Homo sapiens: one gene and its partners. The protein of the gene in region 4 purifies or fractionates together with the protein of the main gene of each other region. This does not show direct contact. Each region holds a gene or a part of one and is shown on either strand. Other genes may lie near its edges.

Evidence for each region.
Region 1: the proteins of PDPK1 (region 4) and GLG1 purify together in Homo sapiens (affinity purification with mass spectrometry; 2 studies listed by BioGRID and IntAct, with this or other methods). This does not show direct contact.
Region 2: the proteins of PDPK1 (region 4) and FAM199X purify together in Homo sapiens (affinity purification with mass spectrometry; 2 studies listed by BioGRID and IntAct, with this or other methods). This does not show direct contact.
Region 3: the proteins of PDPK1 (region 4) and ACOT9 purify together in Homo sapiens (affinity purification with mass spectrometry; 2 studies listed by BioGRID and IntAct, with this or other methods). This does not show direct contact.

The regions. Positions count from the first base shown.
Region 1 is NC_000016.10:74,492,115-74,495,614, reverse strand, and holds part of GLG1 (Golgi apparatus protein 1 isoform 3 precursor), read left to right. Parts: intron 1-783; coding exon 784-855; intron 856-2,474; coding exon 2,475-2,658; intron 2,659-3,500. UniProt on the Homo sapiens protein: Binds fibroblast growth factor and E-selectin (cell-adhesion lectin on endothelial cells mediating the binding of neutrophils).
Region 2 is NC_000023.11:104,186,953-104,190,452, reverse strand, and holds part of FAM199X (protein FAM199X), read right to left. Parts: intron 2,414-3,500; coding exon 2,147-2,413; intron 846-2,146; coding exon 675-845; 3' UTR 1-674.
Region 3 is NC_000023.11:23,740,477-23,744,630, forward strand, and holds the start of ACOT9 (acyl-coenzyme A thioesterase 9, mitochondrial isoform a precursor), read right to left. Parts: upstream 2,801-4,154; 5' UTR 2,669-2,800; coding exon 2,649-2,668; intron 1-2,648. UniProt on the Homo sapiens protein: Mitochondrial acyl-CoA thioesterase. Catalyzes the hydrolysis of acyl-CoAs into free fatty acids and coenzyme A (CoA), regulating their respective intracellular levels. Regulates both mitochondrial lipid and amino acid metabolism.
Region 4 is NC_000016.10:2,541,021-2,544,520, reverse strand, and holds part of PDPK1 (3-phosphoinositide-dependent protein kinase 1), read right to left. Parts: intron 1-3,500. UniProt on the Homo sapiens protein: Serine/threonine kinase which acts as a master kinase, phosphorylating and activating a subgroup of the AGC family of protein kinases.

The sequences.
Region 1 (3,500 bases), about 72 Mb from region 4:
TTACCACCTGCTGACTCTACAGAACAGCCTTCTAAGTCTTTAAATAGAATGGTCTCTCCATCCTTACAACAAAGTACTGAAAGTAACTTGTGTACACTTCCACTCTGCCTGCTGGTTTGCATTAACAGCTTTAACCATCAGAGCCACTGATGTAAGAGTTTCGTTAACTCTAGCATACACTTGTAAGAAAGAAGACTCAGAGGCTGGGTGCGGCGGCTCACGCCTGTAATCCCAGCACTTTGGGAGGCCGAGGCAGGCAGATCACTTGAGGTCAGGAGTTCGAGACCAGCCTGACCAATATGGTGAAACCCCATCTCTACTAAAAATAAAAAAATTAGTTGGGCAGGGTGGCGGGGGCCTGTAATCCCAGCTACTTGGGGCTCTGAGGCAGGAGAATTGCTTGAACCCAGGAGGCAGAGGTTGCACCGAGCTAAGATTGTGCCACTGCACTCCAGCCTGGGCAACAGAGCAAGACTGACTCTATCTCAAAAAAAAAAAAAAAAAAAAAGACTCAGACTCTAACACTTCTCTTGGTTCCCTAATTAACAAAATACATCTGAGAACAAATGACAAACTCCAAATATCATGGGAATATTTTTTTCGTCTTTACTGCAGTCACTGTTTTTGTTAAAAGCCTATTAAATTTTATAAATGGAAGCGCTGTTTGTCCAAAGGTATGTACGATTATAATCGTTTAATAGAAAGCTCTATATGAGATTGTGGATAATGTTCAGCATAACTATTTAGCTAAAGTAATAATAATGTGTATGTTCCATCTTATAGACACAAGCTGGTGAGGGCAGAGTGTATAAGTGCCTCTTTAACCATAAATTTGAAGAATCCATGAGTGAAAAGGTAAGTATTATTTTGAAACTAATGAATGTTTTATTTGTTTTTTAAAAGCTTTCTCAGCCAGACACGGTGGCTCACGCCTGTAATCCCAGCACTTTGGGAGGCTGAGGCAGGTGGATCACGAGGTCAGGAGTTCAAGACCAGCCTGGCCAAGATGGTGAAACGCCGTCTCTACTAAAAATACAAAAATTAGTCGGCCGTGGTGGTGGGCGCCTGTAATCCCAGCTACTCGGGAGGCTGAAGCAGGAAAATCACTTGAACCCAGGAGGTGGAGGTTGCAGTGAGCTGAGATCGCACCACTGCACTCCAGCCTGGGTGACAGAGTGAGACTCTGTCTCAAAAAAAAAAAAAAAAAAAAAGCTTTCTCAATTTCTCTGAAACAATATTTCTTATAATCTTATACCGAAACGTAAATGACTGATAAAGCTCACCGCTTTCAGAGGTGAGGTACTTGGGTTTTAAGCATATTTGGCTGAAACCAAGAAAATGAAACCCTGATTGTGATATCTAGATAGTGAGAAGCCAAGTAGGGTTCTCACTGTGGTGGTTTTTTTAGGTGTTTTTGTTTTGTTTTGTTTTTGTTTTTTTTTGAGTGGAGTCTTTCTCTGTCACCCAGGCTGGGGTGCAGTGGCATGATTCGGCTCACTGTAGCCTCTGCCTGCCGGGTTCAAGCAAGTCTCCTGCCTCAGCCTCCCTAGTAGCTATGACTACAGGCACCTGACAACACGCCCAGCTAATTTTTGTATTTTTAGTAGAGACGGGGTTTCACCATGTTGGCCAAGCTGCTCTCAAACTCCTGACCTCAGGTGATCCACCCGCCTCTCACTGTGGTTTTATATAAAATCCTCAGTGTGATTTTATATAAAATTCTCAGATATTACTTTGTTTGGGGAGTAAAATCAGAGAATTTTATATAAAACCACACTAAGGCCAGCCCTGCCTCCTCAAGAAGTTTAGGTTAACCAAATCAATGTGCTTTCTAGGCAATTAGCTATTTAATTTTTCAGCAGCTATATCATTAAGCATCCTCTTTTAGTTCTTTGTCCCTGAATGAATGCAAGAATAGTTGATGGCTTTTGAAATAATTAATTTTGCTATCTTGTCATTTACTTTCCTGTGTAGCTGAAGAAATGTTTCTCATTTCCTTTTTCTTGTATCATTTGAACAATCTTATTCAAATCTTATTATTCAGATGATATAGAATAATTGAATAATTGTATTTTAAAGCATTGAACAGAATATCCCAAATGTTATGTTAGTTGCCAGTTTGATGCTAGTGAAATTTATGTTCGGGGTATTGTTAAAGTGGAAAAGAATGCTGTGTGTCAAGTTAACATATTGGGATCTGTGAGATATTTACATGTTTTGGATAGCTGCTATTGCAGCAACAACTAGCAAGTGACTACAGAATTTCTAGGTTCCCCACCCACTTACCCCTGTCTCATGCCACACTAGTTTAGCTCAATTGTGAACATTTTAACCAAACTTAAAGATAGATATGTTGGTAATAACTGCAGTTGTTGACATGTACTTGGCTGAGTCGCTGTGCTCATCTTAGTGGTACACGTCAACAGTAAAGTTACATGAGTGGTCTCACGGCTGTTGCTGTACTCTTTCCTCAGTGTCGAGAAGCACTTACAACCCGCCAAAAGCTGATTGCCCAGGATTATAAAGTCAGTTATTCATTGGCCAAATCCTGTAAAAGTGACTTGAAGAAATACCGGTGCAATGTGGAAAACCTTCCGCGATCGCGTGAAGCCAGGCTCTCCTACTTGTTAATGTGCCTGGAGTCAGCTGTACACAGAGGTAGCATTCATATTTTTTTTTTAATTATCATTTCTGTTCCTTTTTGGATTCACACTCTAAAGCTTTATATATATAAACGTTAGTTTCCTCCCATATTTGCTTCTTTGAGTATTTTTCTTTTTTTTTTTTTTTTCTTGAGACGGAGTCTCTCGCTCTGTCGCCCAGGCTGGAGGGCAGTGGCGCAATCTCGGCTCACTGCAAGCTCCGCCTTCCGTGTTCACGCCATTCTCCTGCCTCAGCCTCCCAAGTAGCTGGGATTACAGGCGAGTGCCACTGCGCCTGGCTAATTCTTGTATTTTTAGTAGAGATGGGGTTTCACCATGTTGGTCAGGCTGGTCTCGAACTCCCAAACTTAGGTGATCCGCCCACCTTGGCCTCTCAAAGTGCTTGGATTATAGGTGTGAGCCACCGCACCTAGCAATTTTTTTTTTTTTTTAATAGAGATGAGGTTTTGCCACGTTGGCATCCCGGGTCTCAAAACTCCTGCCCTCACGTGATCCTCCCACCTTAGCTCCCAGAGTGCTAGGATTACAGGCGTGAGCCACTGTGCCCAGCTGAATAGTTTTCTTGTCTTTTCTTTTTTTTTTTTTTGAGACAGAGTCTCGCTTTGTCACCAGGCTGTAGTGCAGTGGCACAATCTCAGCTCACTGCTACCTCCGACTCCCTAGTTCAGCCTCTGGAATAGCTTGGATTACAGGCACGCACCACTATGCCCAGCTAATTTTTGTATTTTTAGTAGAGATGGGATTTCACCATGTTGGCCATGATAGTCTCGATCTCCTGACCTCGTGATCTGCCTGCCTCGGCCTCCCAAAGTGCTGGGATTACAGGCGTGAGCCACT
Region 2 (3,500 bases), on a different chromosome or scaffold from region 4:
AATCTAATAGGAAAAAGATAAGGGCCTGTTCTAATACCTTTGAGTCAATAATGAATGAAAACAGACAGAACTAAAACTAATGAAGGCACTATCGTAAACAGCAATCCACACCTTGCCCACCCCCACACCTCAGAAAAGATTTCCACCAGGAATCAAGAATTATGCTATGGCCCTTTAGGAAAAGTAAACTAAGAAATTGTAACATTAAGAAGGGAACTAAATTATGATCTCTACACATGTATGTATACTGACATAATAAACTACTGTCAGCAGTACCTTGAAATCTTCTAAACTGTGTAAGTACTAGTCTTTGAAGACGCCCACTTCACCGCCATAAACTTTAAACAGTCAAAACGTTTACCCAAAGTAGTGGTTCTTAAACTAGACTGTGCATCAGAATAACCCAGCACTTGTTAAAAAAACAATGCTAGGCGCCTCCCTGTTGGTTTCTGATTCACTATGTCTGGGGGCGGGGCCCACTAGTATGCATTCCTAACAACTTCTCAAGTGATGCTGAAGCTGCAGGTCTTGGGATCACCTGCCAAGAACCACTGGCTTAAATTATTAATGGTACATCAGCACAGCCCTAACCAAAATTTTGGTCAAGATGCATGTAAACCCATAAGGATGGAGTATTTTAATGCTCACAAAGAACGTTGATAAATTCACCCTTATTACATCAAAACATCAACATCTGCTTCATGGTCTTCCTCAGTCACTTTCAAGGACAGCACCTCTTCGTTAAGGAAGAGCCCACTGAGCCTCTCCTTCCGGGCCTGCCTCTGCTCCTTCAGCTGCCTCTTGCGGAAGGCCTTCTGCTGTAACTTCCGCTGCTTGGATCGCTTCTGTCAAAATAAAAATTTCTAAATCAGTTTGGTTTAGTTTTTGGCATATCCACCCCAAAATGTTTTGTGGATCAAATTCTCTATTTTCTAACTTTAAGAGCTGTTCAAATCCTTCTGTAGTATGATCCTTGTTCCAATAAGTGAGCCACTGGCTTAGGCTTAAAAATGATTAAGATTCCAATTTTGTGGTATTTGACCAGTGACTCTTCTGATTAGGAAGAGTTGAGACGATCATTTTGGCTAGTGATAGATAAAAAGTCACTTCAAAGACTTCTTTTTTAAATTCCATTAAGGTACATTGGTACAAATGCATAATGAACACATAATTAATACTAGGCGACAATACTGAATACACCTGTGGAGAACATTGCCCAAATCTCTAATACTTATGATTCTCAGGTGCCTTTCATCCAAAAACACTAGCAATCTTACAATGGCAGGTAAAAAAAAAATCATGCCTTTTTTGTAGTAGGCGAATACCATCTTAAAAATCCATCAGAAACTCAGTGGATACTCCCATCCTTGTCACCGGTGAACTGATAATAAAAAGGAATGACCACATATCTAGAGAAATTCCTTAGCAACAAAACTGGCTATGTTTCTGCTACTTCCCTAAGAACCAGGGAAAGAATCATTGTGTATCTTCAAGTCACCACTGGGTCACTAAAGAGTTAGAGAGATTCTCTTATCATCTTTAAACTGGCTCCAGATTCTTGCCATTGCAAGGAATCAAACTCCCCTGCTAAGCCACAGGACCATTCTAAATATACTTATACCTTCTTTTTTTTTTTAAGTGCCCGACAATATTATACAGAACTTTCTCAACTGTGAAAAGAGTAGACAGAAATTATAGAAAGTATTAGATTTTTAAATTAGCTAAGAAGAAACATTTAAGATTAAAACATTAAGAAAACATTTAACACACACAAAAGACATACACAACATTCTTAGGAGCTAATAGACAGCAACATCAGCAACGTAGTGAGATTCGCTCAGTAGTGAGTTGCAGTCAATATTGCAATCTTGAGAATAACTCATTATTTCCACCAATTTATCTTACTTAAAACATACACAAAAATCAGGTAAGATTGAATGCAATATGGTTGTGGGTCAAAACAGCATTTCAAAGCACTCAGCCTAGAGTGCTTTGTTCAACAGCAGAGCATCCTGCTTGTTCAATTAAGACCAAAACCCACAGGCAACTAGACAGCAGGATCATTTTAACTCTTCAAGAAATTTATATGAAGGAGTACTAATGTTAATATTGAAAGGTAAAGTTTTGTATTGATTAGACGTTTTACTTTTGAATCCCGAATCCGCTCTGCTGCACTTGCAGACAGGTTGCTGTCACTGTGTGCTCGACTCATGTTGGCACTGGAGTTTGAAGCAGAGTTTCCAACACTGGACCCACTGCTGCTTGCAGAACTGACCATGCTGGCACTGCTGCTGCTGGCGCTGGCACTGGCACCGCTCACTCCACTGGTGCTTGCACAACTAAAGTTGCTTCTCTTCCAGGCCTCTCTTGCAGGCCGTTGGCGAGGGCTATGTTCCTTGATATAGTTTCTGACCTTGGGATGCACAAACACAAACTGGTTAGTGTTGCACCTTGATGTTCTACCTTCAAAATGCTGGGGGAAAAATAATATTGTACTTAATCTAAAAGACTGTCAAAAGTGCTGCAGATGCATACGTAAGGTAGAATAGAAAGGCTAAATTTAGAAATAAGTACTAGAAAATAAATGCTCAAAAAGCTAGAAAACACGTTATAGAGCTGGATTTTAAAAGCACATAAAATATAATCAGTAAATGGAAGGCTACTCGCCTTCAGAAATTTAGGACTGTAAAAAAATGGCATTCAAAATACAAACTAACAATAAAATAAAATAGATGAGATTAGGCATTTGTTAAAAGTCTCCACTTAAGACAATTTAAGTAAGCTGCTGATTTTATCTAAGATTAGGTTGTTTCCTAAATCTTAGCTAGGGGCCAACAATACCTGTCTTCAAATGCAAGACATCAATTTATCATACTAATGAAAAATTTGCTGGAATGTAGAAAATTATAGTATGTCTGCTGGGAGAAATACTGAAATAAGAGAAATTTTTCATAAATAATGATAAATGCAAAACAAAGAAACAAATCAAAAGTAGAACATAAGAACGTAAGTATTCACTCAGCTACGTACCAGAAAAAGAACAGCAAAAATTGTATTTAGAAGATACCAGAGGCCAGGTGCAGCGGCTCACGCCTGTAATCCCAGCACTTTGGGAGGCTGAGGCAGGTGGGTCACGAGGTCAGGAGTTCAAGACCAGCCTGGTCAAGATGGTGAAACCCCATCTCTACTAAAAATACAAAAATTAGCCGGGTGCGTTGGCAGGTGCCTGTAATCCCTGCTACTTGGGAGGCTGAGGCAGGAGAATCACTTGAACCCGGGCAGTGGAGGTTGCAGTGAGCCGAGATCGCGTCACTGCACTCCAGAGTGAGACTCTGTCTCAAAAAAAAAAAAAAAGAAGATGATACCAGAGTACCAGAGATGCGTATTTCAGAACAGCAGAGGGAAAATTCACTAGGTTTCACCCTAGCCTGGCTCAATTATTACTGCATAAAACTACTCAAATCCCTCAGCTGTTTATCAAAGAATAGCTCTCATTAATT
Region 3 (4,154 bases), on a different chromosome or scaffold from region 4:
GCGGGCGTGGGAAGGGTTGGAATACATTTTTGCTCACACACACAATGGTATATACTATTTCAGGAGGTGCACAGACCCTTTTTGTACCCTCAGATCCCCCTATATTTGAAGATTCTGATTCAAACCAACCTCCTTAAGAAACTGAGGCCCCAGTTTCAGACGACTTTCCCCCAGTGCCAGTCAACAGGCACACCAGCAGAGTCCAGATAGAGCCCAGTTCTTCCGATCTCCCCCAATACATACACACACACACACACACACACACACACACACACACACACACACACCGCACTGAGGTGGAGGAGGTGGGAGAATGGTTTTAATCAATACTCAACACTTCAGTACCTCAGGGTTACTGGCTTATCTCCTGATAAGCCCTCAGGAGTCTTACTTATAGCAAAACCTCTAGGCCTTTACTGTGGAGAGGCCTTTGCAACACTCAAATCCCAGGACCTTGTAACTGAACCTTTCCAATCAAAGGAGATCAAGAAACTCAAGGCGGGGGGAGTGGGGAGGGACAGCATTAGGAGATATACCTAATGCTAAATGACGAGTTAATGGGTGCAGCACACCAGCATGGCACATGTATACATATGTAACTAACCTGCACATTGTGCACATGTACCCTAAACTTAAAGTATAATAATAATAATAATAAAAAGATGATTATTACAAAAAGACAAAAGATAACAAGTGTTGGTGAGGATGTAGAGAAAAGGGAACCCTCGTACACTATTGGTGAAAATGTAAACTGGTACAGCCATTTTGAAAAATAATGAGGCAGTTCCTCCAAAAATTAAAAATATAACTACCATATGATCCAGCAATTTCTCTTCTGGACATATATCCCAAAGAAATAAAAAAAGTATTTCAAAGAGAAAAAAAAAAAAGAAAACTCAAGGCCTCCATGGCCTACCTGGGGAGTCACATAACTCACCCTGGCTCAGCCCTGGGTCCCAAGCTTACAGCAGTTGGCAAGGAAGAGTGTTCAGTGCAATAACAGGCAATACCACTCATATGCCCTCCACTCTGAGGAAATAACCTCTATTTAGAGACTAAACAAAGGTGCCTCTTGCAAGTCTAAAAAAGAAAAGAAGCTACAAAGGTTGCCCACCAGTCAAAGAACCTAATCATCTCAGTCTATATTCATTTGTGAACTCCTCCTCTCACTAGACACTAAGAGATTATCCGCTTAAGGTTCAATAGTTTTTTGTTTGAGACAGAATCTCACTGTGTTGCCCAGGCTGGAGTGCAGGGGCGCGATCTCAGCTCACTGCAACCTCTGCCTTCCGGTTCAGGCGATTCTCCTGCCTCAGCCTCCAAAAGTAGCTGTGACTACAGACATGCACCACCACTCCCGGCTAATTTTTGTATTTTTAATAGAGACGGGGTTTCACCATGTTGGCCAGGCTGGTCTCGAACTCCTGGCCTCAAGTGATCCATCCACCTCAGCATCCCAAAACGCTGGGACTGCAGTCGTGCACCACCACACCCGGCCTCAATAGAATTTTCAAGAAAGGAACACAGGGTTATAAGAGAAAGCACCTGAACAAGACCATGGAGCTTTTGTAGAAGACCTTTCACATTGCAAGCTAAAGTCAACTGTGGCCCCTCTCATAATGACTTTCAGTCTGCCTTCAAATAGTTTAACAAAGGTTTTTTGTTTGTTTTTAAGTACTATAAACAAGACAGAACCCTTACAACTGATAACAAAGTCCCCAGGAACAGTGAGTGAGTGAGAGAGAGAGAGAGAGAGAGAGGGAGAGAGAGAGAGAGAGAGATATCCAGGACCCCCAAGAGAATTGATGGGGTTAATGTGAGTCAAAAGCACTATGAGTCACATCAGGGGGACAGGCCCACTGGCAGCGAGATAACTTCAGAAACTGGAGCAGGTGTGAGCCCCCTGGGATGCAGCCAGGCAGAAAACTTGGAAAGGGTGGCATGCTCGGGTGAAAGGGATTAGGGAGAGCTAGACACGCTCTGGAGTCTAAGGCCCTCAGGCCTTAACTGTGCCAGCTGGGAAGATTACATATACAAAAAGGCATCCTCCCTTACCCACGTGGCCCAATCAAAGCACCCAGCCTCTTATAAGGGCTTTGCGGCTCATTAAAGTTAAGTTCAAATTGGCACCAGGGTCCTAGACGCACAGTCCTAGGGTCCTGGGAGCCAAAAGGTACCCTGTAATCTCTGCCAATGTTACAACAAACTTAAGTAAGAGCCGAAGTAGGTCAAGCATTTAATCCTAAAAATGTTCTCCAAAGGAAGATGAAGGGCTAGAGGTAACATAGAACTCCAAATATTATCTTTCTGACAAGGGGCTACCCCGACGCGGCTACCAACCACACCCCGGATGAGCAAGGCCAAAGGAATTTTAGGGAACACCCAACTTCCTCCCTTAAAAGTGCTGCTTTGCTTTTAATATCAAACTCAGTGCTAGAAGTCGCCAAAGTGGGGGCGAGGTTCTCCCAACCAAAGGCCGGCGGGCTTATGTCCGGTCGGAGGTACAGTGGGCGAGCGCCCCTTATCATAGAGCCCAAATGCCCATGCGTGGCCCACTTCTTCCGCCGGGGCCAGCCCGAAGCTCTAGGGGAAGACGATGGCACCCCAGGCTACCGCCCTGCCAGCCCCTTCCACGCCCCGCCACCTACCGCAGTGCTGCCCGCCTCATTGCGCTAGGCTGCCGTGCGCGCGATGGAGAACCGGGCCCCGCGCGCTAGTCGGCGGAGGGAAACTGAGGCGATAAAAGACGCACGAGTACCAGACCGCGCCCTTGCTGAGGACAGCCCGGGAGCCGGACAGCGGTGTCCGGGGGCGGGACCGCGGCGTCCAGGGGGCGTGGCCGCGCTGTGCCGGGCGGACCCTACCCGTTCATTGGCGGGAGGCTGGAGTCCGCCTCTGCGGAGCTTCCCACTCAATCAGTTGTGCGGGTCGTGTTGCTACAGCGAGGACCGGCCTATTCTCGGTTGAGTAAACGAACCACGCAGCAACGCCAGGGCGTGACGTCGAGAAGAGGCCCGGCTCTGCCTAGTGGAGCTTGTCTCCTTTATCCTTGATCCCCGCGCCTTGGCTCCGTCTGTTCTTCCCCTTGGCTGCACATTGGAATCTCCTGGGCAACTTTCCAAAATACTGATACTTGGCCGGGCGCGGTGGCTCACGCCTGTAATTCCAGCACTTTGGAAGGCCTAGGCGGGCAGATCACCTGAGGTCAGGAGTTCAAGACCAGCCTGGCCAACATGGCGAAACCCTGTCTCTACTAAAAATTCAAAAATTAGCCAGGCGTGGTGGCAGACGCCTGTAATCCCAGCTACTCGGGGGACAGGCACGAGTATCGCTTGAACCTGGGAGGCGGAGGTTGCGGTGAGCCGAGATCGCACCACTACACTTCAGCTTGGGCGACAGAAGGAGACAATGTCTCAAAAAAAAAACAACAAAAAACTGATGCTTGAGACCCACTGGCTGGAGATTCTAGTTTAGTCCTGGGTGCGGTCTGGGCTTCGGGATGATGTCTAAAGATGCCCCCAGGTGATGCTAATGTAACCAAAGGCTAAAAACCACTGACCTAACAGGAAAAAATTGTTCCTCTCCTCTTCTCGGCCTGACCCCCAATGTTTGATATCTTGGGCGAGCTAGAGAGATTCAAGGCCAGAGAGTTTAAGATTATTTCACCCTACGATCTAATTCTCCATTTCTTTCAACGAATTATTATTGAGCTGTTTGCATTGTGCCAGGCACTATTGCAGAGGTTGGGGTTGCAAAAAGAAAAAAGGACAAAAATCCCCGCCCTTAAGGGGCTTGCCTCTTGATAAGGAAGGAAAACAAATCAACAAACAAGTTAGCAAATAACATGATCTCAAATATGGTAAAGCGGTTTAAAGGGGAAATAAGGTAACGAGTGGGGATCTTTTGAGAATATAAGCAAGTCTTGCTTTGCCTCTAAATACGGCAATTTCCTAAAAGGCAAGGGCCATATGCTTTTTCGCAATACCCCATACTTAGTAAAAATGTATTGATTTGAATTAAGCTAGCTTTCTGTTTTGAATCACTTCATGAGTTACACATGGAGCATGGTCTTCGGCTTTCTCTTTCTACTGAATTTTCCCTGCTTTTATCAATCTCACATCTGGAAGACTCCCCTTTTAGCCTACAAGGATCTC
Region 4 (3,500 bases):
GAAAAGGCTAGGGATATTCATTGTACTATGCTTTCAACTATTCTTCGGTTTTGAAATTTTTCAGAACAAAAATTAGTGGAGAAAGGTTCATCCTCAGTCCAGTAAGTTCCAGGAGACAGAGCCAGACCTACCTTATTCACCACTGTTTCTCCACTGCTAGCTCAATGTGTGGTCCTCATCCCACTGGCCCAGGAAACCACTGCTAATATTTCTGTGGGAACCTCCCTCCAAGCTTTTCCCTGGGCCTGAGGAAAGTTATACTGGGCATGCTGCTTTGCAACCAGGTCTCTTCAGGTAGAAACACTTTGTAACCACCTATCAGGAGAGTACATACAGTCTGCCATCCCCAACCATAGGTTGACTCCACATGCATGGATTCAACCAACAGTGGATAGAAAATATTAGAAAAACAAGAAATTGCATCTGTACTGAACATGCACAGACTTTTTTTTATTGTCATGATTCCCTAAAGAATATAGTAAAGCAGGCCGGGCACGGTGGCTCACGCCTGTAATCCCACCACTTTGGGGGGCCGAGGTGGGCGGATCACCTGAGGTCAGGAGCTCGAGACCAGCCTGGCCAACATGGCAAAACCCGGTCTCTACTAAAATTACAAAAAAAAAAAAAAAAAATTAGCCGGGTGCGGTGGCACGTGCCTGTAATCCCAGCTACTCAGGAGGCTGAAGTAGGAGAATTGCTTCAACCTGAAAGACGGAGGTTGCGGTGAGCCGAGATCGTGCCACTGCACTCCAGCCTGGGCGACAGAGCAAGATTCTGTCTCAAAAACAAAAAACAAATAACAAAAAACCCAGCAGACTGGTCAGAAAAGACTGTACAGCCACAGGGGTTTCCATGTAGGGAAATTTCTCTAGGCAAGGAGGAAAAGCCTGAAGAAGACAAGAACTGCTGAGAACAGGGCAGCAGGGAACATCCTGGACCCACCTGGGCCGCACAGGCTGGAAAGAGAGGCCGTGGCCGGGCATCCGAGCCTGGGCCCCTCACAGAGGAGGAACAAAGTGACAGGCCAGGAGAGGAGGGGAAGATGCAGGAGTGCTGGCATCTGGGGACCAGCCAGCAAGTCCTTGGAGCCCTCCCTCACCAGAAAAGGGGAAGCAGGAAGGACAGCGGCAATGGCCAGAGTGAGGAGAATGCAGCGTCCTGCAGCTCCATGGAGTGAGCGCCTCCTTCACGGAGCAGCCCTGGCCGCCCTGCAACTGAGGCCGCGGCACCGAGGGTCCCGCCAATGCAGCAAGGGGCGAGAGACACCACACCTAAGACTCAGGAGCAAGGTCCTGTCCCCGCTCCCAACCCCGGGGCTCCTGGAATCACCGAGGCAGAACTGAAAAGTGAGTGCGGGCCCCTTTCCCACATGTTCCACTGCAAAGGTCAACACACGCCAGGCGCATTTCAGTGAGGCTTCAAGTCTTCCCTGCAAATCTCATCAGCCTTTTCTGATGGCATTCAATGCACAGCGGTCACTTTCAGCTACAACCCCTTCCTACTGCAGTCGAATTAATTCCAAAAGGGAAAAAACAGGTTAAAGAATGGGACTTTAACGATGAATTTATTGCAAAAAATAAGCCCATAGCCAGAAGAATCCTGACTGGCATCCTGCTGAGACACACAGCCTCTCCTCAGCCCTCTCCAGCACGGGGAGAGGGCACTGTCACCAGCTCCGCAAACACGCAGGAGACGGGGACCTCCAGAACTAACGTCCTTGGTCTCCAGACCTACCTTCAAACCTCATCTTTAAATATTTCGAATCCCTGCGTGCTACAAGCTGACTTGAAACACAGATTGGGCCGGTCCCAGCACGGTGGCTGGTAGAGAGGGCATCTGATCTTGTCTGTGGAATGACGGAAGTCACTGGACTGTCCAGGAACTACATGCCCACCTTCATCAGATGGAAACCACACACTTGTTTATTCTGCAGGGGGCCGTGTGCTCAACAGTGAGCTGCTAATGTCAGGCTTGTCCATCTTTTTCATACACAGGCTCTACAGTACTGTCAGTTCCCAATTCTGTGGGTCCCTGTATAATCCAACTCTTTAAACAGAAACCAGGCTGGGTGCGGCGGCTCATGCCTGTAATCCCAGCACTTTGGGAGGCCGAGGCGGGAGGATCCCTTGAGACCAGAAGTTTGAGTAGCCTGGGCAACATAGTGAGACCTCATCTCAATAAATAAATTAAATAAATAAATAATGTAGGTGGTGCGCACCTGTAATCCCAGCTACTTGGGAGCCTGAGGCACGAGAATCACTTGAACCCATGAGGCGGAGGTTGCAGTGAGCCAAAATCATGCCACTGTACTCCAGCCTGCGTGACAGAACGAGACTGTCTCGAAAAAATAAATAAATAAACAAACAGAAACCAGAATCAGGTGCTCTTATAAGGGATGTGTAGCCCAGAAACTCAATCTTAACACATTCTAAATGACCTGGAATTTCTTGGAGCAAAAATTCCAGTTTAAATATCAGGAAAATTGTCTAGACTAAGAGAATGGAAACGGACTTTGTGCAACCAACATCAGGTACAGAAAAGAGACCCCAACAATCATCATGAACCCAAACAGGCCTTTCTCCTCACTAAGAGAAGAGAACACACACAACCCATGCCTTGTTACTCTTTGAGAAGATGTGCCCTGCCTGTGATCTAGCAGCTAGAGACGGAACATACAACCTGTTCTCAATATTCAAATAATTTTTTAAAGGACATGGTATCACACTGAGCAAGTGAATAATGCAATTCTGCTGTAGAAGAATGCACGGCTGAAAAGACCTGAGCAACTCATGTCCAAAACTTGCAGTTTCCACAGCAGCACTTCCTCCCAGCACACTGCCCTTTGAACCTGCTTTCTAAACAACTGTGCTGGGCAGCCCAGTGGCCACATGTCATCGCACAGCAGGTGTGGAGCAGCATAGAGCACCCTGGCCCTCGCACCTGCTTGGGGGACTGTTTCTGCACCCAGGGCTTCTCTGCAGCCACAACCTGCCCCACACAGAACTGCAGCACCACGTGGCATCCTGTCCATTTCCTCAGAAGGGGAAAGTGCCACGCCAGTGCCCACTCTCTTCCAAACACATCCTCTCAGAAGGGACTGGCCACGCTTGCCCCCTCATTTCTGCAGCGCTTCCCAGTTCATCACCTGCTTGCCAGACTCCGTCTCCCACCGGTGTCAATCAGCTGCCCTGGAGCATCTAAACCCTGGGTCAGGCGGCTCAGGGGATGAGTGCATAGACTGAAAAAGGAACACTCCCTGTTTCTCCCCAAAACTGTGCTGAAGGCAGTCTAGAGGGCCAAGACCTGTCAAGAAGAGCTGCCCAAGGCCTCTTTTCAGGCCCCACATCTCTGCAGGCTGCTGCTGGATCCTTCTCATAAGAACACATCTCAGAAAAGCAGAACAAACCACTTCCCTCTTACCACTGGGAGCTCACCTTGCCAGCTCTAGACTCAGCTTGGACTGGCTGTCAGGGCAACGTTGCGTACAGGAATACATCACA